Homo sapiens: one gene and its partners. The protein of the gene in region 6 interacts with the protein of the main gene of each other region in a pairwise test. Each region holds a gene or a part of one and is shown on either strand. Other genes may lie near its edges. The genes, in order: MUC1, KEL, FKBP7, SLC35H1, SIGLEC12, ADIPOQ and MRM1.

What was found.
Region 1: the proteins of ADIPOQ (region 6) and MUC1 interact in binary tests that used the Homo sapiens proteins (3 or more experiments, as listed by UniProt).
Region 2: the proteins of ADIPOQ (region 6) and KEL interact in binary tests that used the Homo sapiens proteins (3 or more experiments, as listed by UniProt).
Region 3: the proteins of ADIPOQ (region 6) and FKBP7 interact in binary tests that used the Homo sapiens proteins (3 or more experiments, as listed by UniProt).
Region 4: the proteins of ADIPOQ (region 6) and SLC35H1 interact in binary tests that used the Homo sapiens proteins (3 or more experiments, as listed by UniProt).
Region 5: the proteins of ADIPOQ (region 6) and SIGLEC12 interact in binary tests that used the Homo sapiens proteins (3 or more experiments, as listed by UniProt).
Region 7: the proteins of ADIPOQ (region 6) and MRM1 interact in binary tests that used the Homo sapiens proteins (3 or more experiments, as listed by UniProt).

What each region holds. Positions count from the first base shown.
Region 1 is NC_000001.11:155,187,620-155,189,915, forward strand, and holds part of MUC1 (mucin-1 isoform 10 precursor), read right to left. Parts: coding exon of another isoform or gene 1,621-2,296; intron 1,316-1,620; coding exon of another isoform or gene 998-1,315; coding exon 544-997; intron 445-543; coding exon 389-444; intron 240-388; coding exon 103-239; intron 1-102. UniProt on the Homo sapiens protein: The alpha subunit has cell adhesive properties. Can act both as an adhesion and an anti-adhesion protein. May provide a protective layer on epithelial cells against bacterial and enzyme attack.
Region 2 is NC_000007.14:142,942,989-142,945,363, forward strand, and holds part of KEL (kell blood group glycoprotein), read right to left. Parts: intron 1,754-2,375; coding exon 1,655-1,753; intron 1,413-1,654; coding exon 1,335-1,412; intron 896-1,334; coding exon 795-895; intron 609-794; coding exon 498-608; intron 356-497; coding exon 288-355; intron 57-287; coding exon 1-56. UniProt on the Homo sapiens protein: Zinc endopeptidase with endothelin-3-converting enzyme activity. Cleaves EDN1, EDN2 and EDN3, with a marked preference for EDN3.
Region 3 is NC_000002.12:178,472,101-178,475,600, forward strand, and holds part of FKBP7 (peptidyl-prolyl cis-trans isomerase FKBP7 isoform a precursor), read right to left. Parts: intron 1,868-3,500; exon of another isoform or gene 1,755-1,867; intron 1,043-1,754; exon of another isoform or gene 929-1,042; intron 1-928. UniProt on the Homo sapiens protein: PPIases accelerate the folding of proteins during protein synthesis.
Region 4 is NC_000020.11:46,354,426-46,357,925, forward strand, and holds part of SLC35H1 (solute carrier family 35 member C2), read right to left. Parts: intron 3,349-3,500; coding exon 3,198-3,348; intron 2,213-3,197; coding exon 2,149-2,212; intron 1,450-2,148; coding exon 1,377-1,449; intron 817-1,376; coding exon 648-816; intron 541-647; coding exon 457-540; intron 1-456.
Region 5 is NC_000019.10:51,499,001-51,503,265, reverse strand, and holds the start of SIGLEC12 (sialic acid-binding Ig-like lectin 12 isoform a precursor), read left to right. Parts: upstream 1-1,465; 5' UTR 1,466-1,532; coding exon 1,533-1,959; intron 1,960-2,872; exon of another isoform or gene 2,873-2,892; coding exon of another isoform or gene 2,893-2,965; coding exon 2,966-3,346; intron 3,347-3,549; coding exon 3,550-3,828; intron 3,829-4,048; coding exon 4,049-4,096; intron 4,097-4,265. UniProt on the Homo sapiens protein: Putative adhesion molecule that mediates sialic-acid dependent binding to cells. The sialic acid recognition site may be masked by cis interactions with sialic acids on the same cell surface.
Region 6 is NC_000003.12:186,852,710-186,855,836, forward strand, and holds part of ADIPOQ (adiponectin precursor), read left to right. Parts: exon of another isoform or gene 1-341; 5' UTR 342-349; coding exon 350-563; intron 564-1,068; exon of another isoform or gene 1,069-1,163; intron 1,164-1,423; exon of another isoform or gene 1,424-1,474; coding exon 1,475-1,995; 3' UTR 1,996-3,127. UniProt on the Homo sapiens protein: Important adipokine involved in the control of fat metabolism and insulin sensitivity, with direct anti-diabetic, anti-atherogenic and anti-inflammatory activities.
Region 7 is NC_000017.11:36,607,024-36,609,464, reverse strand, and holds the end of MRM1 (rRNA methyltransferase 1, mitochondrial precursor), read right to left. Parts: intron 1,796-2,441; coding exon 1,663-1,795; intron 1,567-1,662; coding exon 1,447-1,566; intron 1,223-1,446; coding exon 1,050-1,222; 3' UTR 501-1,049; downstream 1-500. UniProt on the Homo sapiens protein: S-adenosyl-L-methionine-dependent 2'-O-ribose methyltransferase that catalyzes the formation of 2'-O-methylguanosine at position 1145 (Gm1145) in the 16S mitochondrial large subunit ribosomal RNA (mtLSU rRNA), a universally conserved modification in the peptidyl transferase domain of the mtLSU rRNA.

The DNA of each region.
Region 1 (2,296 bases), on a different chromosome or scaffold from region 6:
GCCCCTCCCGCTGCCAGCACTAAGGAAAGAGCGGGGACCCAGACACTGGAAGGAGAGGGGCCCCGGCATGGTGCTGGGCTGCAGCCAGGGAAGTAGCCTCACCGCTGACGTCTGAGATCGTCAGGTTATATCGAGAGGCTGCTTCCGTTTTATACTGATTGAACTGTGTCTCCACGTCGTGGACATTGATGGTACCTTCTCGGAAGGCCAGAGTCAATTGTACCACCACAGATCCTGGCCTGGTCACAGGGAAATGGGCACTTCAGCCACGGGTCCCAGCTCTGGCTCAGCACTCTTCCCCCAACCTTAAGTGCACCAGTCCCTCCCTACGGTCATGACCACCACCCACCCTCCAACCACCACACTGGGTCCACACCCAGAACTGTACCTGAACTTAATATTGGAGAGGCCCAGAAAACCCCCTTGTTTATAAATCTGCAAAAACTGGGGTGAGAGGGAAAGGACTCAGGCTTGATGCAAAGGGTGTGGACAGTTCTGATGGCTGCTTCAGGGGAGCATGGGGAAGGAAAGGCCGATACTCACCATTTCAGAAATGTCTCTCTGCAGCTCTTGGTAGTAGTCGGTGCTGGGATCTTCCAGAGAGGAATTAAACTGGAGGTTTGAAATGTGAAAAGACAGGAAAAAGAAAGAGACCCCAGTAGACAACTGGGGAGAAGTGCTGTGATTGGAGGAGGTGAGAGGAGGTACCGTGCTATGGTGAGTGCTACTGGCATCAGTCTTGGTGCTATGGCTGGCAAGGGTGGTAGGAGTATCAGAGTGGTGGCTGGGAATTGAGAATGGAGTGCTCTTGCTGGCTGGGGTTGTGGTAGCCCTGGCAGAGGTGCCGTTGTGCACCAGAGTAGAAGCTGAGCCTGATGCAGAGCCTGAGGCCGAGGTGACATTGTGGACTGGAGGGGCGGTGGAGCCCAAGGCGGGCCTGTTGTCCGGGGCCGAGGTGACACCATGGGCTGGGGGGGCGGTGGAGCCCGGGGCCGGCCTGGTGTCCGGGGCCGAGGTGACACCGTGGGCTGGGGGGGCGGTGGAGCCCGGGGCCGGGGTGGAGCCCGGGGCCCGCCTGGTGTCCGGGGCCGAGGTGACACCGTGGGCTGGGGGTGCGGTGGAGCCCGGGGCCGGCCTGGTGTCCGGGGCCGAGGTGACACCGTGGGCTGGGGGGGCGGTGGAGCCCGGGGCCGGCCTGGTGTCCGGGGCCGAGGTGACACCGTGGGCTGGGGGGGCGGTGGAGCCCGGTGCCGGCCTGGTGTCCGGGGCCGAGGTGACACCGTGGACTGGGGGGGCGGTGGAGCCCGGGGCCGGCCTGGTGTCCGGGGCCGAGGTGACACCGTGGGCTGGGGGGGCGGTGGAGCCCGGGGGCCGGCCTGGTGTCCGGTGCCGAGGTGACACCGTGGGCTGGGGGGGCGGTGGAGCCCGGAGCCGGTCTGTTGTCCGGGGCCGAGGTGACACCGTGTGCTGGAGTGTCGGTGGAGCCCGAGGCCGGCCTGGTGTCCGGGGCCGAGGTGACACTGTGAGCTGGGCTGCGGGCGCGGTGGAGCCCGGGGCCGGCCTGCTCTCTGTTTTAAATATACACCGTGGGCTGCGGGCGCGGTGGAGCCCGGGGACGGCCTGGTGTCCGGGGCCGAGGTGACACCGTGGGCTGGGGGGGCGGTGGAGCCCGGGGCCGGCCTGGTGTCCGGGGCCGAGGTGACACCGTGGGCTGGGGGGGCGGTGGAGCCCGGGGCCGGCCTGGTGTCCGGGGCCGAGGTGACACCGTGGGCTGGGGGGGCGGTGGAGCCCGGGGCCGGCCTGGTGTCCGGGGCCGAGGTGACACCGTGGGCTGGGGGGGCGGTGGAGCCCGGGGCCGGCCTGGTGTCCGGGGCCGAGGTGACACCGTGGGCTGGGGGGGCGGTGGAGCCCGGGGCCGGCCTGCTCTCCGGGGCCGAGGTGACACCGTGGGCTGCTCTCGCGGTGGAGCCCGGGGCCGGCCTGCTCTCCGGGGCCGAGGTGACACCGTGGGCTGGGGGGGCGGTGGAGCCCGGGGCCGGCCTGGTGTCCGGGGCCGAGGTGACACCGTGGGCTGGGGGGGCGGTGGAGCCCGGGGCCGGCCTGGTGTCCGGGGCCGAGGTGACACCGTGGGCTGGGGGGGCGGTGGAGCCCGGGGCCGGCCTGGTGTCCGGGGCCGAGGTGACACCGTGGGCTTGGGGGGCGGTGGAGCCCGGGGCCGGCCTGGTGTCCGGGGCCGAGGTGACACCGTGGGCTGCGGGCGCGGTGTAGCCCGGGGCGGGCCTTGTGTCCGGGGCCG
Region 2 (2,375 bases), on a different chromosome or scaffold from region 6:
CAGGTGAGCTTCCTGGAGGGCATGGTTGTCACAGGCGAGGCAGCCCCCAGGCAGTACTGTTGAAAATGGGACAAGAGAACATACAGCAAGAGAACATAGGGTTGGTGCTGCCTAGGTGAGGATGTGGGTGGTACCACAGACTGAATCAGCTCCCAGGAGCATGGCAAAGTTCCCAGGACTGCCCCACCTCAAACCCTCAAATAACCTCCCTTTCCCCTCCAGGCCTCCCTTGTGGTCTTCCCTTAGGTTCCCTATTATCCCACCTCCCAGTGGCCCCTGTTACCCACAGAGCTGGTAGAAGATGTGCAACAGCTCGTGGGCCATGATGCTGCCAGCAGCGCCAAAGTTCACGGCTCTAGGGAGACAAGGGCTTATTTGACCCCCAGAATCTCTCAGCATTTGTGACCCCAATTCTCCAACCGTAAGTCCCATCCATCATAACACCTGTCGGCCCCTCTTGGGAAACTCCCTACCTACCCTTACAGAGTGACCCATACCTGGGATAGCCAGGGTGGAAGAATGGGGGTTGGAGGAGTCCAGCTGGAAAGACTACCACATGGTCAGATACCGAATAGTAAGCATTGACGTCCCAAGGGGACACCTTCCACCTGTGGGAAGAGGACATGTGAACTCCAGCCCCCACCACGTATTGCCCTGCCACCCTGAGACCTACACAGTCCCTCCCAACTACCATTACTGTTCATGCTGCCTGCCCTGAGCCCTGGCTTCCTTTCCTGTGAATCATGGATGGGTCTCTCTGGGATGGAGTGCCTGTGTCTCCCCTGCTGTCATACCTGTGTTGGGGGTGAGGCTGCAAGAAGCTCTGGACAATTCTAGCTCGGAGGGACCGGACACAGCTCAGGACAGACTGCAGGAAGCTCGATCCAAGCTGTATCTGGGGAAGAGGCAGGAGGTGACTTGGGCACACAGAGACTTCTATAGATGCACGCTGACAAACACCAATGGGACCATTTGACCCCAAACAGGCAAGCCCTGACAGGCAGGCATCCAGGGATTAGGAGAGAGCAGCCCAATGGCATCACTACACAGCACACCCAGGCTTTACACATATCAGCACACAGATGAACACGCCCAGACAAGTCACAGGATGCATGCATGTGTGTTGGCACATGCGTTGGGACCTGAAAAGATTCTGTTCTTCTGCCAGCAAGACGTACAGTGTGGATATTTCCCCATCAACCCCAGCCAGCACCAGAGTAAGGACAGAGCTAAGTCACCCAGGGAAAACTGATTGTCCAACAAAGACTTAGGAGGGTCAGAGAAGTGACGAGAAGTCAAGGACTGAAAAGGAGCTGGAAAACACAGGGACCCACATCGTTGTATTCTTGTCGGGCCAGCTCTGGCTTCAGGGCCCATTCTGAAGCCCCCATCTCCACCTGCAGTTGAGCAACCTGGAGAGAGACACAGAAGAGGCTAGGAATACTCTCCGAGTCTACCAGAGGAAATTTCTCCCACTCGTTGCCCTGTCCCAGCCTCTCACATTGTTGCCAGTGTGAGTATACAGCCCAGTGGCTTCCCTACTTAGCATGTGCCTGGGGGGGCCTTTGGCATTTGCTTCCAATCCCCATCTCGCTTGTTCCAATACTCCATTCCCTGCACAGGCTCCCACACCAGCCAGGACGCCTGGCCTGACCTTGTCCTGGGCCATGTTCTGGGTCTCCTCATTCATCCAGGGAAGGTTTCTGAGGCGAGTGATGAGGGCATCCCGGATCGCAGTGAATAATTTCATGGCCTGTGGGAGTGAGGTCCAGGGACAGGGGGACAGGATCAGGAGAGGCCTCAGCCTGGCCCTGCCCACAGCTTCTGACCCTTGGAAAAGGGCTTGGCCCCAAGGAGCTGCCTGGGCTGGAGCTGCTGCTAGAGGAGCAGCTCAACTAAAGCAACTAAAGGATCTGTGGAGAAAGGAAGGCAGTGCCAAGCCCACAAAGGGAAGGTGGGGCCTGGCCATCCGTGAGGGCCATCAGGGAGATATAGTTCCTTTCCATGGGGAAATAGCCTGACACAGGAGAAAGACAGTGTCCTCACTCCTGGGGGCAGGAACACCTCTCAGAAATCAGAGGGAGGAGAGGGCTGTCATTTTCTCCTCTGGCTCAGGGCTCTTGTTCTCACACTGTCTTTTTTAAACCGTCCACTCCCTCTCCTCATCCTCCTGAGCTCTTCAGCTTCCCAGCAAGTCCCCCACAAGTCTCCCTGCCTTCACAACGTGAGTGTGTACTCACTGCTTCCCCAGCCACCTGCCATCTCATGTAAATCCTTTCCTGGAGGAAAATGAAAGGCAATATCGAGAGCCTGGGCTCTGGCATCAGAATGCCTGAGTTCAAACCCTGTCTCTGCTTTTTGGTAACTGTGTGACT
Region 3 (3,500 bases), on a different chromosome or scaffold from region 6:
AATCTGTTCTGTTGCCCAGGCTGTAGTGCAGTGTCGCGATCTTGGCTCACTGCAACCTCCACCTCCCGAGTTCAAGTGATTCTTGTGTTTCAGCCTCCCAAGTAGCTGGGATTACAGGCACAAGCCACCACACCCAGCTATTTTTTGTATTTTTAGTAGATACGGGGTTTCACTATGTTGGCCAGGCTGGTCTTGAACTCCTAGCCTCAGGTGAGCCACCCACCTCGGCCTCCCAAAGTGCTAGGATTACAGCTATACGCCACTGTGCCCAGCCCAAAACTTGAATTTCTTAAGAAAAAATATTGTAGGTACATATGCAGTTTTTGAACAATTTTGCTATAAACATAGAAAATATTGGCCGGGCGCAGTGGCTTATACCACTTTTTTTTTTTAGACAAGAATCTTCCTCTGTCACCCAGGCTAGAGTGCAATGGCGCGATCTCGGCTCACTGTAACCTCTGCCTCCCAGGTTCAAGCAATTCTTATTTGGCTTATACCACTGCGCCTGGCCAGGAGGGCGAGATCAGCCTGGCTGGCCAGGAGTTCGAGACCAGCCTGGCCAACATGGCGAAACCCCATCTCTACTAAAAATACAAAAATTAGCCAGGCATGGTGGCGTGTGCCTGTAATCCCAGCTCCTCGGAGGCTGAGGCAGGAGAATAGCTTGAACCCGGGAGGCAGAGGCTGCAGTGAGCCAAGATCAATCACACCACTGCGCTCCAATCTGGGTGACAGAGCAAGACTCCATCTCAAAAAAAAAAAAAAAAAAAAGGATATATTGCCAATTACCTCTTTTTCTTGTTTTTTTTTTTTTTTTAAAAAAAACTAAAGTATAAAAATGAGGAAAATATGCATTTGCTACGGAATTACTTATATTTAGAGAAGCAGATCAAAGAAGTAGGAATTAAGGTAAAGAATATATACATACCGCATGTATTGTTATTTAAGCACTAACAAGTCACATGCATTTCAAGACATGCAGGGTTGTTCTGTGACATGAGACAAGGATATTTTGCAGAAGAAAGACTTCTTCAAGTACTACCTAAAATAAAGTTATAGCTAATGTTAGGTCTTAATAACAACTTACTTTTAAATGCTTATTTAATCAAGAGGTTGTTTGTTAAACAGTTACTTAAGGTCTACACTGCAACTTTTAAAATAATGTAATCCAAGGTATTGGATTACAATGCCTAATGTAACGCAGGCAAGGTCAGTATTAACTATGGTCCAATTAACACTTTTTTTGGGCCTCAGTTTCTTACTCTGTAAAATGAGGGTGCTGGTGGTATTACTAGTGAGATTAATCACTTTAATGTTTGTTAGAGATACCTCCAATTGAATATGAACTTGTTTCACATCAAACTTCTATATCTCTGCAGCAAGTTTCTGATTTATTAAGAGCTTAGGCAGCCTGGGTAGTCATTCATATCTAAGCATAAATTAGTTTATGAAAAAGATAAGCTAAGTGGTCCTTTGCCTGATGGCGGTGAACCCTGGATGAGCACCTGATGATGACAGATGTGTGTGCTCTAGGCAGATAGGAGAGTGGGTGCTCTAGTGGTAGGCAGAATGTGGAGGCATCTGAAGACACAACGCAAGACAGAAAGGAAAACTTTGAAAATGAGAAAGAGACTGAAAGGCAAACTCTGCCTCCAACATTTTGCCTAGAAGTGGCCTCAACTTTTGACAACATTTTTAGCACAAGTATTGCATTTGACTTAATTTATTTTCAATTTTCCTTCTCTTTCTCCTAGGTTCCTATACAAATAAAAACAGGATATATGAATTATGGTACCATGGGAGCTGTTCTGATGGGATCAAATTATTGGCAAAAAGCATTAAAAATAAAGCTGAAGTTATCTGGAAATTGTCTCTTTAGGAGTTTTAAGCCTGACTGGGTCTGACTCAAAGCACTGACACCCCCCCACCACCCGCCAATCCAGTGTGGGGCACTGATGCCCCGATTTTGCTGGAAAGAACTCTTAATGACTAAGACAACTGCCTCAAAGAAGGCATGCCACTTCCATGAAATATTTGGGAGCAATGCCAATATCTCATTGTGGAAAATTAATCTTTACTATTTCAAACCGGTGGAGTCAGCAGTGGCTCTAAATAGGGTAAGGAGGCAAAGATTCTTTCTGTATAGCCTTCAAGCAGCAACACGGAGCAAGAACCTAACTAAGGATGCAAGGTACAGCCTATCAGGCTGCCCATCCTCCTGCCTGCTTTAAAAATTTTCTTCTCTGTTCTGCTACATGCAATTTTTGTAATTTAAAATTTTAATTTTGGAAAAATTAATACATGCCTTATAAAACTTTCAAATGGTACAAAATGTTAGAGTGAAAAGAAATCTTCTCATCCTTGACCCTGAGGCCTCCTTCCCAGGAACACTTAATGTCATCAGATGACTGCATATTCTTCCAGATGTATTCTGTGTAGATACATGCATATGTGAAACTCCTCCTCTGAAATGAAAGCTCATAGAGGATTGGGAGTAGTGTCTACTTTGGTCACTGCTTTATGCCCAGTGCCTAGAACAAAGCCTGGCACTGATGCTCAATATATATCCCAAAAGTGGAATATAGTCTTGTCCACTTTTTTTTTTGAGCCAGGGTCTTGCTGTGTTGCCCAGATTGGAGTGCAGTGGCACAATCACAGCTCACCGCAGCCTCGACCTCCCAGGCTCCAGGGATCCTCCCATCTCAGCCCCCTGAGTAGTTGGGACCACAGGCGGATACCGCCACGCCTGGCTAACTTTTTAATTTTCTGTAGAGATTGTGTCTCCCTACATTGCCCAGGCTGCTTTCAGACTCCTGGGCTCAAGTGATCCTCCCACCTTAGCCTCTCAAAGTGCTGGGATTATAGGCATGAAGCCACCATGCCTGGCCTCCACTTTATTTTTAACATATTAATAAGTATAGCTCTACTTCATTCTTTTTACTGGTTACACAGTAATTCATTGTATAGATATACTATAATTTATTTAACTAATTTCCTATTGATGGATAGGCAGGTGGTTTCCAACCTTTTGCCACCCTCCCACCCAAAAATGCCTGCAGTGAATGTTCTTTTACATATACCTTTGTGCACATTCCTGGAAATGGAACTATTGGATAAGAAGGCACGTGCATTTTCACTTTTTTTTTTGAGATGGAGTCTCGCTCTGTTGCCCAGGCTGGAGTGCAGTGGCGCAATCTTGGCTCACTGCAACCTCTGCCTCCCAGGTTCGAGCGATTCTCCTGCCTCAGCCTCCCAAGTAGCTGGGATTACAGGCACACTCTACCACACCCAGCTAATTTTTGTATTTTTAGTGGAGACGGGGTTTCACCATATTGGCCAGACTGGTCTCGAACTCCTGACCTGAAGTGATCTGCCCACTTCAGCCTCCCAAAGTGCTGGAATTACAGGCATGAGCCACCACACCCGGGCCTGCATTTTCACTTTTGATAACAGTTGATAGAGAAGTTGAATGATTTCCATTCCCAGCAATAATGCTGGTT
Region 4 (3,500 bases), on a different chromosome or scaffold from region 6:
CCTTAGAGGCAAGATAGGGTGGTTAAGAGTAGGGCTGGACCACTTGGAGCCAGGCTGCTGGCTTCAAATTCTGGCTCATTTACGAGCTATGGGACCTTGGGCAAGTTATCTTTACTTCTCTGGGCCTCATTTTGTTCTACCTGCAAAATGGGGGATAATAATAGTACTGCCACACCAGGTTTTTGGAAGGATGAAATGAGTTCCTATGTTTAAAAAGATCAGAACAGCCCTGGTGCACTTTCAGGGCTCTGTGCACACTTACTGTTACTGTTCCCTGAATTTTATATGTGCTTTCTCTGTAGCGTTTATCATGCTGGACCCCAAACCATGCGCTTCCAGGGGAGGGACTGCATCTTTGATCTCAATAATCTCTGCAGCTACCACTGTGTTGGGCTCAGGGCGAGGATCTGTGGTCTGCTGCACTGAGGTGCCCTTGAGAGGGAAGGCCCAACGTACCTTCAAATACAGCAAAGAGAGGGAAGAGCCCCAGGAACATGAGTGGCTGCAGGTGGAACATGGTGTCGATGGGATTCTGGAGGCCTGCAGGGCGGGGGACAGGCACCATCAGGTCTGGTCCGGCCCTGCCCTGCCTCCGCCCTGCCTGTGCCGGGGTTCCTCTCTCTGGAGGATGAGTGGCACGTGCTCACCGAGTTCAGCCTTCTGCAGGAGCATCTGGGTGAGGGTCCAGCGAATGCCACCGATGAACGAGGCCCCCAGCACCAAGGCGAAGCCCTCCACGTTGAACTGTGTGGACTTGTAGGTGAACATGAAGAGACCCCCGGCGATGAGGAGGACCACCAGGACCAGTGCCGCGCGCTGGTAGGATGGGGAGCAGTGGCAGCTAACTCGGGGGTCTTGAGGGTCAAGGGTTCATCACATTTGGAGCCTGGGGTCAGCAGCCATCTTGGCTGCCCCTGGGGCAAGAAATCCTTCCACCCTTCAGCTCCATCCCAGGGGGTCCTGGACAGTCCTTGCCCACCAATGTCAGCATGTAGGGCTGACGGTCAGCTGGTATGCCAACAGCCCTGCTTGCTCTGCCACACTGACGGCTGTCCTAGGCCCCCAAGTGGTCCCACCTCCTCCCTGGGCCTAACACACAGGGCTACTGCCTCCCACAGCAGGGTGCTTCCTAGACCCAGCTCTGCTGGGACCCTCATCCTGCAGTGCTTTCACCTTTGGTCATTACCCTGCCACACTGGTTTCTAAATATTCTGAGTATTGCCCATGTCTAGGTCCCTTCTCAGAAAGGGATCTACTGCCACCTGGACTGGGCTTGTCTCCTCTGTCACACAGCAGGACAAGCCACTGCTCAGACTCCCACTTTATTCTTAGCATCTGTGGGGGCAGGAAGGACACAAGAGACGCTGGGGCCTCACCAGCTCCTCCAGCTTGAAGATCAGAGAGAAGATCAAGATGAAGAGGACAGCTGAGGATTTGGTCATTGTGTACCTGGAAGCAAAATTACCCACAATGCACTGCTGGAGCTCAGGGCTCAGACCCATCACCGAGAAAGGAGCAGGAGCACAAATCACTGAGCGAAATGACCAAACAGAGCTGGGCTGTCATCTGAGTGATAAGCGACCTTTAATCAGAAGGAATCTCTGACTAAGAGGCCTCTGGTTATCACCAGAGAGAAGAGGTTACAGGTCTGACGTTGAGCTCCCTGAGTCCTGTTCTTTACCTAACCCTCGGCAGAGCCCAGGAGCGGGAAGGAAGGATGAGAAGTAGGAGGACAAGAAGGCAGGAACAGTGCTCTCTGAAGCAAAACATCAGAGGGAAGAAGAAACTCTTGTGTAGCCCCCAGGCCACATAGGGCTCTGCTGCGGCTGCGTGTACCACCCACCAGTGGCCACCTGTCTGTGGCCTTGCAGCCTGCCTTCCCCTGCTCTGATGATGGGGTTCTGGGAGAGCTCCCTGGCTTCCCCACGCTGCCTGGCAGGTGGGCACAGCATCTCCTCTGCGCTGGGCTTACGGAAGAGGCTGGCGACTTCCCGGAGAGCTGCTGGGTGCCAGGGAGAGGCTGAGAGAGCAAGGGCTGGTCCCAGAGTGGTGGAGTGGCTGGCCTAGCAGCCGGGTGTGCAGACACCCCGCTGGACAGACAGACAGCTTCAGCCTGAAGGGAGGCAGCAGGGCATGGCCAGTACTCACAGCGAGACGGTGACATACAGGAAGCTCCAGTTGGACAAGCCCACGTCAAGCGCCGTCGCCAGAGCTGTGAAGACACAGGCACCCACAGGACAGCTTGGGAGGTCCACACTCTGCTGGGGTGGGCTGGTACCCTGAGGCACCTGAGTGTCCCCCACTTCTGAACCATCCCGGTGCCTCCTGTGGGGCCCTTGGGCCTTCTTTTCCACCAGCAACTAAAGGGTTAATATCTGGCCCCCAAAGGTCGGGGGCTGCTCTAGCATTAGGGCTGGGGCCCATTCCAACTGGCTGGGCCGGTATGGTTTCCACAAACACTCCGGCGAGCCCCCTGAGCGGAGGTATTAACCTGATCTGGTTGATCCCTTACTGGAAACCCTTTTCCCTCAGGATGGAACACAAACTCCTCCACGGGGAATCCGGCCTCCAGGACATGACCCCTGCCCACCCTCTCAGTTCTCATTTTTCCCACTTCCTCTGGCCAGCACCGGGTTCTCAGTATCCTGAAACACTTTGAGTTCCCTTCCAGACCCCACAGCTGGCACTAAATCTCCCTCGGGCCACGAGGGCCCCTCCTCCCAGGGCCAACCAGTCCCACGCATCCTTCAGGGCTCTGCCTACTTGGCACCTGGCCTAGGAAATCTTCCTCTACCAGCCATGGGCCCCGGCCTTGGGTTGGTCCCCTCCCTGGGCTCCGTAGTGCCCTCCATGTCCGTGTCACAGCCCTGCGAGGGCAGGGACCCTGCCTGCTCACCACTTATCTCCAGGCCTGAGGGCTGCACTCCAGGCTCGGTGTCTGCTGGCAGGAGAGGGAGCTGCGGGGCCGCAGGTGCAGGGGGGGTTTTGTGGGTGTGTGGTGGGGCAGTGGGAAGGCACGCAGTGCACAAGAGGCAGCAGCGTGGGTGGTGGGAGGCCAGGTCAAGAGGGCAGAGGAGGAACAGTGCAGGAAGAGGGGAGGGACTTGGCTTCCAGACATGCGGGTGTCTCTCTTGTTCTCATCCTATGGTTCCCCAGCCCCTCTTCCTGCTCTGCCCTCACTGAGGTCCCCCACCTACCTGTGGGAGCCACTCTTCTGAGGTAGTCGGCCCAGCTCAGCACCACACGGGCCCTGTGGCTGGAGCACTGAACCAGCGCCCTGGACAGGGCGGAGAAGAGGAAGATCACGGCCAGGTGCAGCATCGTCATGAAGAGGGGGAAATGGAAGCTCTGTATGGAGCCCAAAGCAGACACCCCGGCTTGGTTTAGACAGCCTGCCCCCCACCGGCTCCCTCTTCCTCTTCGCCCCTCTGCTGGAGTGGGGCTCATTCGGTGGTTCATGAGGACCTTGCTATGTGTGTAGGGCCCTTAGTTACGGTATC
Region 5 (4,265 bases), on a different chromosome or scaffold from region 6:
GATGGGAAGATCCATGGAGCTGAGTAAAATAAAACAGATTGTGGTTTTTATGTAAAAATAGTCTTTAGAAAAACCTATGCAAAGCCATAGTATTGAAGGCAGTGCACTCAGATGATAAAACTACATAGAAAAGCAAGGAGACCATTATCATTAAAGTGAGGCTGGGGCATCTTCAGGAGGAACTGCATGTGGCCTATAGGAAGGGGAAACACAGGGCTGAATAAATGAATGCAATTTCTTTCTTCATCTCATGGGAGAAATTTGGCAATTATCTTGTGATGTTCTATTTCTTGAACAGTGATAATTTGGTGAAAATCACTGAGTCATTTTTTTAGGTGGCACTTTTATTTACTTGTATTACATTTCCCCAAAAATCATTGTTTCAAGAAAAGCTGACATGGGTCTAAGGAGGGCGAATCTTGCAGGATTTTCCCCACCTTCCTCCCAGTACATAGCATACAGTTTCAAAAACTCTTCTGCTGAATTCAGGTGCATTTCTTCTCCCATGAAATCCTGTCCATCATTGAGCGTGGACACGCCAGGGCTGGTGTCCTCGCTCCACGTCTCCTGTTCACCTGAAACCCTGGGAGCAGAGCCTGCAGGAACAAAGGGCCAGCAGACCCCTCATGCTCTGGAGTAAGGAGGACTTGTGAGAGAGCAGTGGTGAAGGATCCCATCCTGAACCCAGAGAGCCATGGCCGAGAGAGAAACGCCTGCCCCTTTAGAAATCTGTCCCTTCCCATCCAACATTCCTCCCTTCCAGACCTCACTGTACAACAGTCACAGCCTTAGCTTCTCAGGCCTCCTGTGAACTGGGCTCTTCTCTGTGTCTTTGGTGTGTATCAACACACGGAATCCTCACCTCCACGACCCCGTGTCTCTCTGCTCAGTCCTCCCGAGACTGATTCCCCAACATAGGAGAGAGCGACCACACCCTGCCTGGTACCCCCACTGAAGCTCCTGCCATGGAGAGCTCAGATATCAGGAGCCTCAGTGTCTCCCCACTACACAGTGACTCTTTGGGGACAGTGTCTAGCTCTGCTGTGTTGAACTCCACCTCACGGCCGCTGAGGGAGGAAGGAGAGGTTGCCTGCTCATCCCACCTGCACCCCCATCTCTTATATCCTAGTGTCACCTCTGACCTACAGAGAGACATCCACAGCCTGTACTTCATAGGTCTGGCCACATGGGACTCATTTTCACCTTATGGAAAATATCACCCAAGGGGAAGGGCACTGAGAGGGAGGCAGTGGGCGGGGTGGGCCCTGCATGGGGTTGGAATCTGGGTGAGTCTTTCATCCTCTCTGGCCTCAGGGTCCCCAGGAGTGGACGGGGTAGTGGACGGTGGATCTTCCAGGGGTGACCCGGCCCTGACAGTGTCTGTGTGTGAAGTTCCTCCTGTGAGGTCACCGTTCAGAACCCACCCCCAACTTCCTGTGCGGCTTCCTCGAAATCTTGAGTTCTCAGTTCCTGAGAGAAGAACCCTGAGGAACAGACTTACCTCAGCAACCCTGGCACCTCCAACCCGACACATGCTACTGCTGCTGCTACTGCTGCCACCCCTGCTCTGTGGGAGAGTGGGGGCTAAGGAACAGAAGGATTACCTGCTGACAATGCAGAAGTCCGTGACGGTGCAGGAGGGCCTGTGTGTCTCTGTGCTTTGCTCCTTCTCCTACCCCCAAAATGGCTGGACTGCCTCCGATCCAGTTCATGGCTACTGGTTCCGGGCAGGGGACCATGTAAGCCGGAACATTCCAGTGGCCACAAACAACCCAGCTCGAGCAGTGCAGGAGGAGACTCGGGACCGATTCCACCTCCTTGGGGACCCACAGAACAAGGATTGTACCCTGAGCATCAGAGACACCAGAGAGAGTGATGCAGGGACATACGTCTTTTGTGTAGAGAGAGGAAATATGAAATGGAATTATAAATATGACCAGCTCTCTGTGAATGTGACAGGTAAGGCACGGGCTCCAAGAGAGGCCAAAGGCAAATGTGATGAGGGCTTTAGGGCACGGCTGAGACGGGACACATGTCCTGGGAGGGGGCCGGGGGTGATGGACTCAGGGGAGGAGCTGGACCAGAGCCTGAGCTTCCCCAGGACCGCACCTTGGATGCCCCTCCTGATCCTGCAAGCCCCTCCCCTCACCAGCCCTGACCCACAGGCCTGACATCCTCATCCTGCCTCTGACGCTGGCACTGTGGCATGTGGGGCCTTATGACTCCTTGTTTTGGGGCCTGTCCTAGGCATGGCCGGGGTTTAGCACCATCCCAGGCCTCTCCCCACCAGATGCCAGAAGCACCCACCCCACCCATGCAGCGAGACAATTATCTCCACACATTGTCAAACGTCCTGGGGGGTTAAGTCCTCCCCAGTTGAGAGCCTTAGGTCTACACAACCCCGTGACTCTCTCAGGCCAGGCCAGGGAGGAAGCACTTCCTGGCGCAAACCAAGGGCAGCAGAGGCACCTGAGCCTGGACAGGGAGACTCAGCACACGGCCCCTCCATCTCTCATGCCCCGAGGTCCTCGGAGATCCACATTTAGATGCTCAAAAGACAGGAGGGACCTCCACGATGGTCCAGAGGCCGGGAGGGCAGGACCTACGTGTCTGGTGCAGGCCCTGGTGCTTCAGGGAAGCCCGGAGGTAGGAGGCGGGACACGGTCTCTTCTCCTCCCTGGGTGGGTCTCTAGGGTCTCTGAGCTTTAGGGTTTCCTTCACTCTGTGCAGAGGGAATGAGTTCCTATAGCATGTGGGTTTGCAGTTTCTCTTCCATGCAGGGCTGAGGTCTCCAGCTCCTCTCCAGCCCCCTGTGGGTCCCACAGCCCTGCCCCTCCTCTCCCTCCCCCTTCTCTGCTCACACAGGGAGCCCAGGAAGCCTCTGCCTCAGAGATGCTGCTGCCCCTGCTATGGGCAAATGAAGAGAGGGACAGTGGGGGCTGGGCTGACCCTCGTTTCTCCACAGCGTCCCAGGACCTACTGTCAAGATACAGGCTGGAGGTGCCAGAGTCGGTGACTGTGCAGGAGGGTCTGTGTGTCTCTGTGCCCTGCAGTGTCCTTTACCCCCATTACAACTGGACTGCCTCTAGCCCTGTTTATGGATCCTGGTTCAAGGAAGGGGCCGATATACCATGGGATATTCCAGTGGCCACAAACACCCCAAGTGGAAAAGTGCAAGAGGATACCCACGGTCGATTCCTCCTCCTTGGGGACCCACAGACCAACAACTGCTCCCTGAGCATCAGAGATGCCAGGAAGGGGGATTCAGGGAAGTACTACTTCCAGGTGGAGAGAGGAAGCAGGAAATGGAACTACATATATGACAAGCTCTCTGTGCATGTGACAGGTAAATCTCTGGCTCTAGGACCAGCCAGAGGGGAAGGCCCGAGGGCCGCAGGGTAGGGCTGAGGTGGGACCCCCATCCTGGGAGGGAGTTGGAGGTGAAGCATATCTGGCTCAGGGGAGGAGTAAGACCAGAGCCTGAGCCTCCTCAGCACCACACTTCAGACCCCAACACCCTCATTTTGCCTGTCTCCCTTTCATCACCAGCCCTGACTCACATGCCCACCTTCTCCATCCCGGGGACCCTGGAGTCTGGCCACCCCAGGAACCTGACCTGCTCTGTGCCCTGGGCCTGTGAACAGGGGACGCCCCCCACGATCACCTGGATGGGGGCCTCCGTGTCCTCCCTGGACCCCACTATCACTCGCTCCTCGATGCTCAGCCTCATCCCACAGCCCCAGGACCATGGCACCAGCCTCACCTGTCAGGTGACCTTGCCTGGGGCCGGCGTGACCATGACCAGGGCTGTCCGACTCAACATATCCTGTGAGTTCTGGGCCAGGACGTCTGGGTCTTTGATCGGGATTCCTTGAGGCCAGTTGGATGTGGGACCCAGACTCAAGGATCTGGGTCCTGGAATCTTGGCTGGGAGTTGGGGGTCAGGAGGATGCTGGCTCCACCTTCCCCATTTATGGGGCTCCTGGGGAGACAGGGTCAGTGTCCCCAGTCCTCAAAGTGATGGGAACTCCGTGTCTTTCTGTTCCAGATCCTCCTCAGAACTTGACCATGACTGTCTTCCAAGGAGATGGCACAGGTAAGATGGAGTCCTCTCCCTGGGGCTGGAGGAGCAGAGCCTTCAACTCAGGGGAGAGCCAGGACTCACCCTGGTGACCTGAGACCCTTTTGTGGGTGAGCCCCGGCCCCCCCCTCCCTCAGCCTCAGCCTTTTGGCCACCTGAGCACCTTCTCATCACCCCTTCACTC
Region 6 (3,127 bases):
TTCTTGGCAAGTCGACTCTTGGAGCTTTCCCTGTGCTTGGTCCTGTGCTCAGACATGGGAAAATTAGAGGAGTGTCATCTGTGCAATCACTGAATTCATAATCTTGGTGAGGAAAGGAGACTACACACAGGGAATAATGCTAAGTATTACAGATTTCAGGGCAGAAAGAGATCAAGGTGGGCTGCAATATTCAGAAAAGTCTTCCTGGAAAAGTTGAATACTTAGAAAGCAGCTCCTAGAAGTAGACTCTGCTGAGATGGACGGAGTCCTTTGTAGGTCCCAACTGGGTGTGTGTGTGGGGTCTGTCTCTCCATGGCTGACAGTGCACATGTGGATTCCAGGGCTCAGGATGCTGTTGCTGGGAGCTGTTCTACTGCTATTAGCTCTGCCCGGTCATGACCAGGAAACCACGACTCAAGGGCCCGGAGTCCTGCTTCCCCTGCCCAAGGGGGCCTGCACAGGTTGGATGGCGGGCATCCCAGGGCATCCGGGCCATAATGGGGCCCCAGGCCGTGATGGCAGAGATGGCACCCCTGGTGAGAAGGGTGAGAAAGGAGATCCAGGTAAGAATGTTTCTGGCCTCTTTCATCACAGACCTCCTACACTGATATAAACTATATGAAGGCATTCATTATTAACTAAGGCCTAGACACAGGGAGAAAGCAAAGCTTTTTTATGTTAACCATAAGCAACCTGAAGTGATTTGGGGTTGGTCTTCCAAGGATGAGTGTAGATGGTGCCTCTATAACCAAGACTTTGGCTTTGCTGCATCTGCAGCTCCTTTTCCATCCCCTTTCCCATCTTCACCCTCATCCCTATTCCCAGTACATTCATATTCTGATTCCTCTTTCTGTCTGCTTAACTTCCATTTCACCCAGTGGCATTCAACCACATTTACTGCACACCCCCTGAAAGGCTCAGTCCTGCCTTTGGGGAACTCTTGATCTAGGTAAGATGTCTAATGTGCAAGGCTCTGTTGGTGGTTACTACAAGAAAGTCTACTCTAAAAATGTCAAACTGAATGTGAACAAGTATTCAAAGTATGGAGCATAGAGAAAATATACTCACCGTGGACCTGATGAAGAATGAAGGCTTCAAGGAGGAGGCAGAGCTTCAGCTAGGCCTTGAATGATGGGTAGGCAGAATAGAGGAGGAGAGACATCCTAGATGGAGGGGGTAGAATTGCAAAACCAGGGTTGATGGTGCCAGCACATAAAGGGCTGGCAGGGTGGAGGGTCTATGATAGAGACCTATAGGAGATAAAGATAGAGTTGAAATTATGGGAGCCTCCATGTCTGTGGGAGATATAGAAGGAGGAGGTAACACCTCTCTCCTTTTGGGAGCTCTTATTGGTTTCTTGATCTATAAGTCAAGAAGGTTGTGAGTGGGAGCCACAGGGATGGTAATTTAGGCTGTAACCAACCTAGGCAGGAGTTCTGTTCTTTGTAGTCACTGAGGTCTTCTCATTCCTTAGGTCTTATTGGTCCTAAGGGAGACATCGGTGAAACCGGAGTACCCGGGGCTGAAGGTCCCCGAGGCTTTCCGGGAATCCAAGGCAGGAAAGGAGAACCTGGAGAAGGTGCCTATGTATACCGCTCAGCATTCAGTGTGGGATTGGAGACTTACGTTACTATCCCCAACATGCCCATTCGCTTTACCAAGATCTTCTACAATCAGCAAAACCACTATGATGGCTCCACTGGTAAATTCCACTGCAACATTCCTGGGCTGTACTACTTTGCCTACCACATCACAGTCTATATGAAGGATGTGAAGGTCAGCCTCTTCAAGAAGGACAAGGCTATGCTCTTCACCTATGATCAGTACCAGGAAAATAATGTGGACCAGGCCTCCGGCTCTGTGCTCCTGCATCTGGAGGTGGGCGACCAAGTCTGGCTCCAGGTGTATGGGGAAGGAGAGCGTAATGGACTCTATGCTGATAATGACAATGACTCCACCTTCACAGGCTTTCTTCTCTACCATGACACCAACTGATCACCACTAACTCAGAGCCTCCTCCAGGCCAAACAGCCCCAAAGTCAATTAAAGGCTTTCAGTACGGTTAGGAAGTTGATTATTATTTAGTTGGAGGCCTTTAGATATTATTCATTCATTTACTCATTCATTTATTCATTCATTCATCGAGTAACTTTAAAAAAATCATATGCTATGTTCCCAGTCCTGGGGAGCTTCACAAACATGACCAGATAACTGACTAGAAAGAAGTAGTTGACAGTGCTATTTTGTGCCCACTGTCTCTCCTGATGCTCATATCAATCCTATAAGGCACAGGGAACAAGCATTCTCCTGTTTTTACAGATTGTATCCTGAGGCTGAGAGAGTTAAGTGAATGTCTAAGGTCACACAGTATTAAGTGACAGTGCTAGAAATCAAACCCAGAGCTGTGGACTTTGTTCACTAGACTGTGCCCTTTTATAGAGGTACATGTTCTCTTTGGAGTGTTGGTAGGTGTCTGTTTCCCACCTCACCTGAGAGCCATTGAATTTGCCTTCCTCATGAATTAAAACCTCCCCCAAGCAGAGCTTCCTCAGAGAAAGTGGTTCTATGATGACGTCCTGTCTTGGAAGGACTACTACTCAATGGCCCCTGCACTACTCTACTTCCTCTTACCTATGTCCCTTCTCATGCCTTTCCCTCCAACGGGGAAAGCCAACTCCATCTCTAAGTGCCGAACTCATCCCTGTTCCTCAAGGCCACCTGGCCAGGAGCTTCTCTGATGTGATATCCACTTTTTTTTTTTTTGAGATGGAGTCTCACTCTGTCACCCAGGCTGGAGTACAGTGACACGACCTCGGCTCACTGCAGCCTCCTTCTCCTGGGTCCAAGCAATTATTGTGCCTCAGCCTCCCGAGTAGCTGAGACTTCAGGTGCATTCCACCACACATGGCTAATTTTTGTATTTTTAGTAGAAATGGGGTTTCGTCATGTTGGCCAGGCTGGTCTCGAACTCCTGGCCTAGGTGATCCACCCGCCTCGACCTCCCAAAGTGCTGGGATTACAGGCATGAGCCACCATGCCCAGTCGATATCTCACTTTTTATTTTGCCATGGATGAGAGTCCTGGGTGTGAGGAACACCTCCCACCAGGCTAGAGGCAACTGCCCAGG
Region 7 (2,441 bases), on a different chromosome or scaffold from region 6:
AAATGTCAAGGGTGTGGAATTTGAGTCCACCTGCCCTAGTGGTGATTCTCAGCCTTGGCTGCACATTAGACCAATGGTGGCGCTTTCGAAAGCCGGATGCCAGGTGGCGCCACACCCATCATGTCAGACTCTCTGGTGTCAGTGTTGGGTTTTTTAAAGCATGCCAGGTGGTTCCAATGTGCCACCAGGACAGAAACACTTCTATGCTCCTCACACTGCTGGCTCCTGCTGCTTTCCTGGGACCCGAGGGGAGGAGTGCCAAATCTGTCTCGGTTGTACAATCAACGGCAAGCCTGCTCCCAGTTCCTCCCCTTGAAGGGAACTGACTCAGTCACCCGTGGGGGGCCCCCGTGGGGTGGGAGGTGTTTGCTAATTTCCCGTCGCCTCTCATGGGGCTGCAGCCAGGAGTCTCCCCGCAAGGAGGCTGTGGAAGCTGCCTGAAGACTGGACCGAAGAGCGAGGCTGCCACCTAACGGAGGAATTGGCCAGAATCTCCCACGTGCTGAGTGATGTTTTATTTGAGCCTCACAACAACCCTGTGAGGTAGGTGCGGAGTCCCGCGGCACAGAAAGATGAGGCCTGCGCTCAAGGCCCCAGGGCGGGGCCGTGTGTGGGCCTGAGGTGCGCACTGTCTACTCCACATCAGGGCCCCGCCCTCCACCCCCCACATTCTCATACACACATTTGCCACAGGCAATGACTGGTTCAAGAGGAACGGGTCCCCTGGGCTGGGCTGCCTGCCTCTCTGCAGATGTCTAAACTTTCCCTCAACTTCCAGGCAGGGCCTGGGAACAGATTCCCTCCATGCTAGGCCATCATGGCTTCCCATGGAAATTAACAAATCACCATGTCCTACTACAGGTCCAACATCACAACAGGAAACAGCTTCCTCTGGTGTCCACCGCAGTCCCCTTCCCCCCCCCCCAGACTGTGGTCAATAAACATGGGCCTGGTGCACACTCAGGCAGAGGCTCCCCGCACACTGGAGCCGGCGGAGGCAGGTGCGGCCGTCCCTGACTCCAGCACATGAACACTGTGGACAGTCCACGTCAGCCCTCATTTTGCCTCTCTTTCTCTGGGCCTGAAGACAGCCCTGGGTGCTGAGCCATGCTGAGCCCTTCAGACCTGGCTGAGGGTTCTTGGGGGTCTTGGAGAAGCTGCCTTCTCTCCCCCTCTGTGGGGAAACCCTTCCTCTGGCTGCAAATGGAGTGAAGAAGAATTCCTGCACAGACACAAGGACAAGGGAAGAGAGGACGGAGGAGAAGGATGATGTTTAGAGACCTAGACATTCAGGCAGCCCCTCATCTCATCAACGGGATGTAATTTCCCCATTTTGTACATAAAGCAACTGAGGCACACAAACAGCCAGCAAATGGGATTAGAGGGCATCAAATCCCACCTGCGTGATTAGAGGGATAGAGGAAAGGGAAAGGGGAGTAGACTCACCTGCAGCCACAGAGACGTTCAAGGACTCAAGTCCAGGAGGCAGCTGGCGCCGGGGCAGGATGGTGAGGAGAAGCTGGCAGGAGGCCTGCACCTCCTGGGATAGACCTGAGCCCTCATTCCCTGCAGGGCGTGGGGCTGAGGGTTAGGGTTGCCCAGCTGGACACCCAGTTGCTCGGGAAATGTAATCTGGGCACAAACGCAGGGACATCCACCTACCCAGCACAAGGAGAGTAGGCCGTTCCCAGAGGAACTCCAAGCAACTCATGATGGGGATCTCGGAGGACTGGGGATCCTCTGTGCTTGGGCAGCCCACCGTGCCGGCCACGAGCCAGCCCTGCTGGGCTTTGGTCTGAAAGGGGGAAGAAGATATGTTCTAATTCTTTTTTTATTTTAATTTTGAGATAGGGTCTTACTCTCGCTCAGGCTGGAGTGCAGTGGCACGATCACAGCTCACCGCAGCCTCAACCGCCTGGGTTCTGGTGATCCTCCCACCTCAGCCTCCCAAGTAGCTGGGACTACAGGCACTCGCCACCCCACCCGGCTAGTTTTTGCATTTTTTTTTTTGAGATGAGGTTTTGCCATGTTGCCCTGGTTGGTCTGGAACTCCTGGCTTCAAGCGATCCTCCCACCTTGGCCTCCCAGAGTGCTAGGATTACAAGCGTCAGCCACCATGCCTGCCTCTCCTATTCTAATTCATCAAATCTTCATCAGAGGCTGTATGCAGTGGCTCAAGCCTGTAATTCCAGCACTTTGGGAGGCTGAAGCAGGCAGATTACCTGAGGTCAGGAGTTCAAAACTAGCCTGGCCCAGGCACGGTGGCTCACGCCTGTAATCCCCAGCACTTTGGGAGGCCAAGGCAGGGGGATCACCTGAGGTTGGGAGTTCGAGACCAGTCTGAACAACATGGAGAAACCCCGTCTCTACTAAAAATACAAAATTAGCCGGGCATGGTGGTGCATGCCTGTAATCCCAGCTACTCAGGAGGCTGAGGCAGG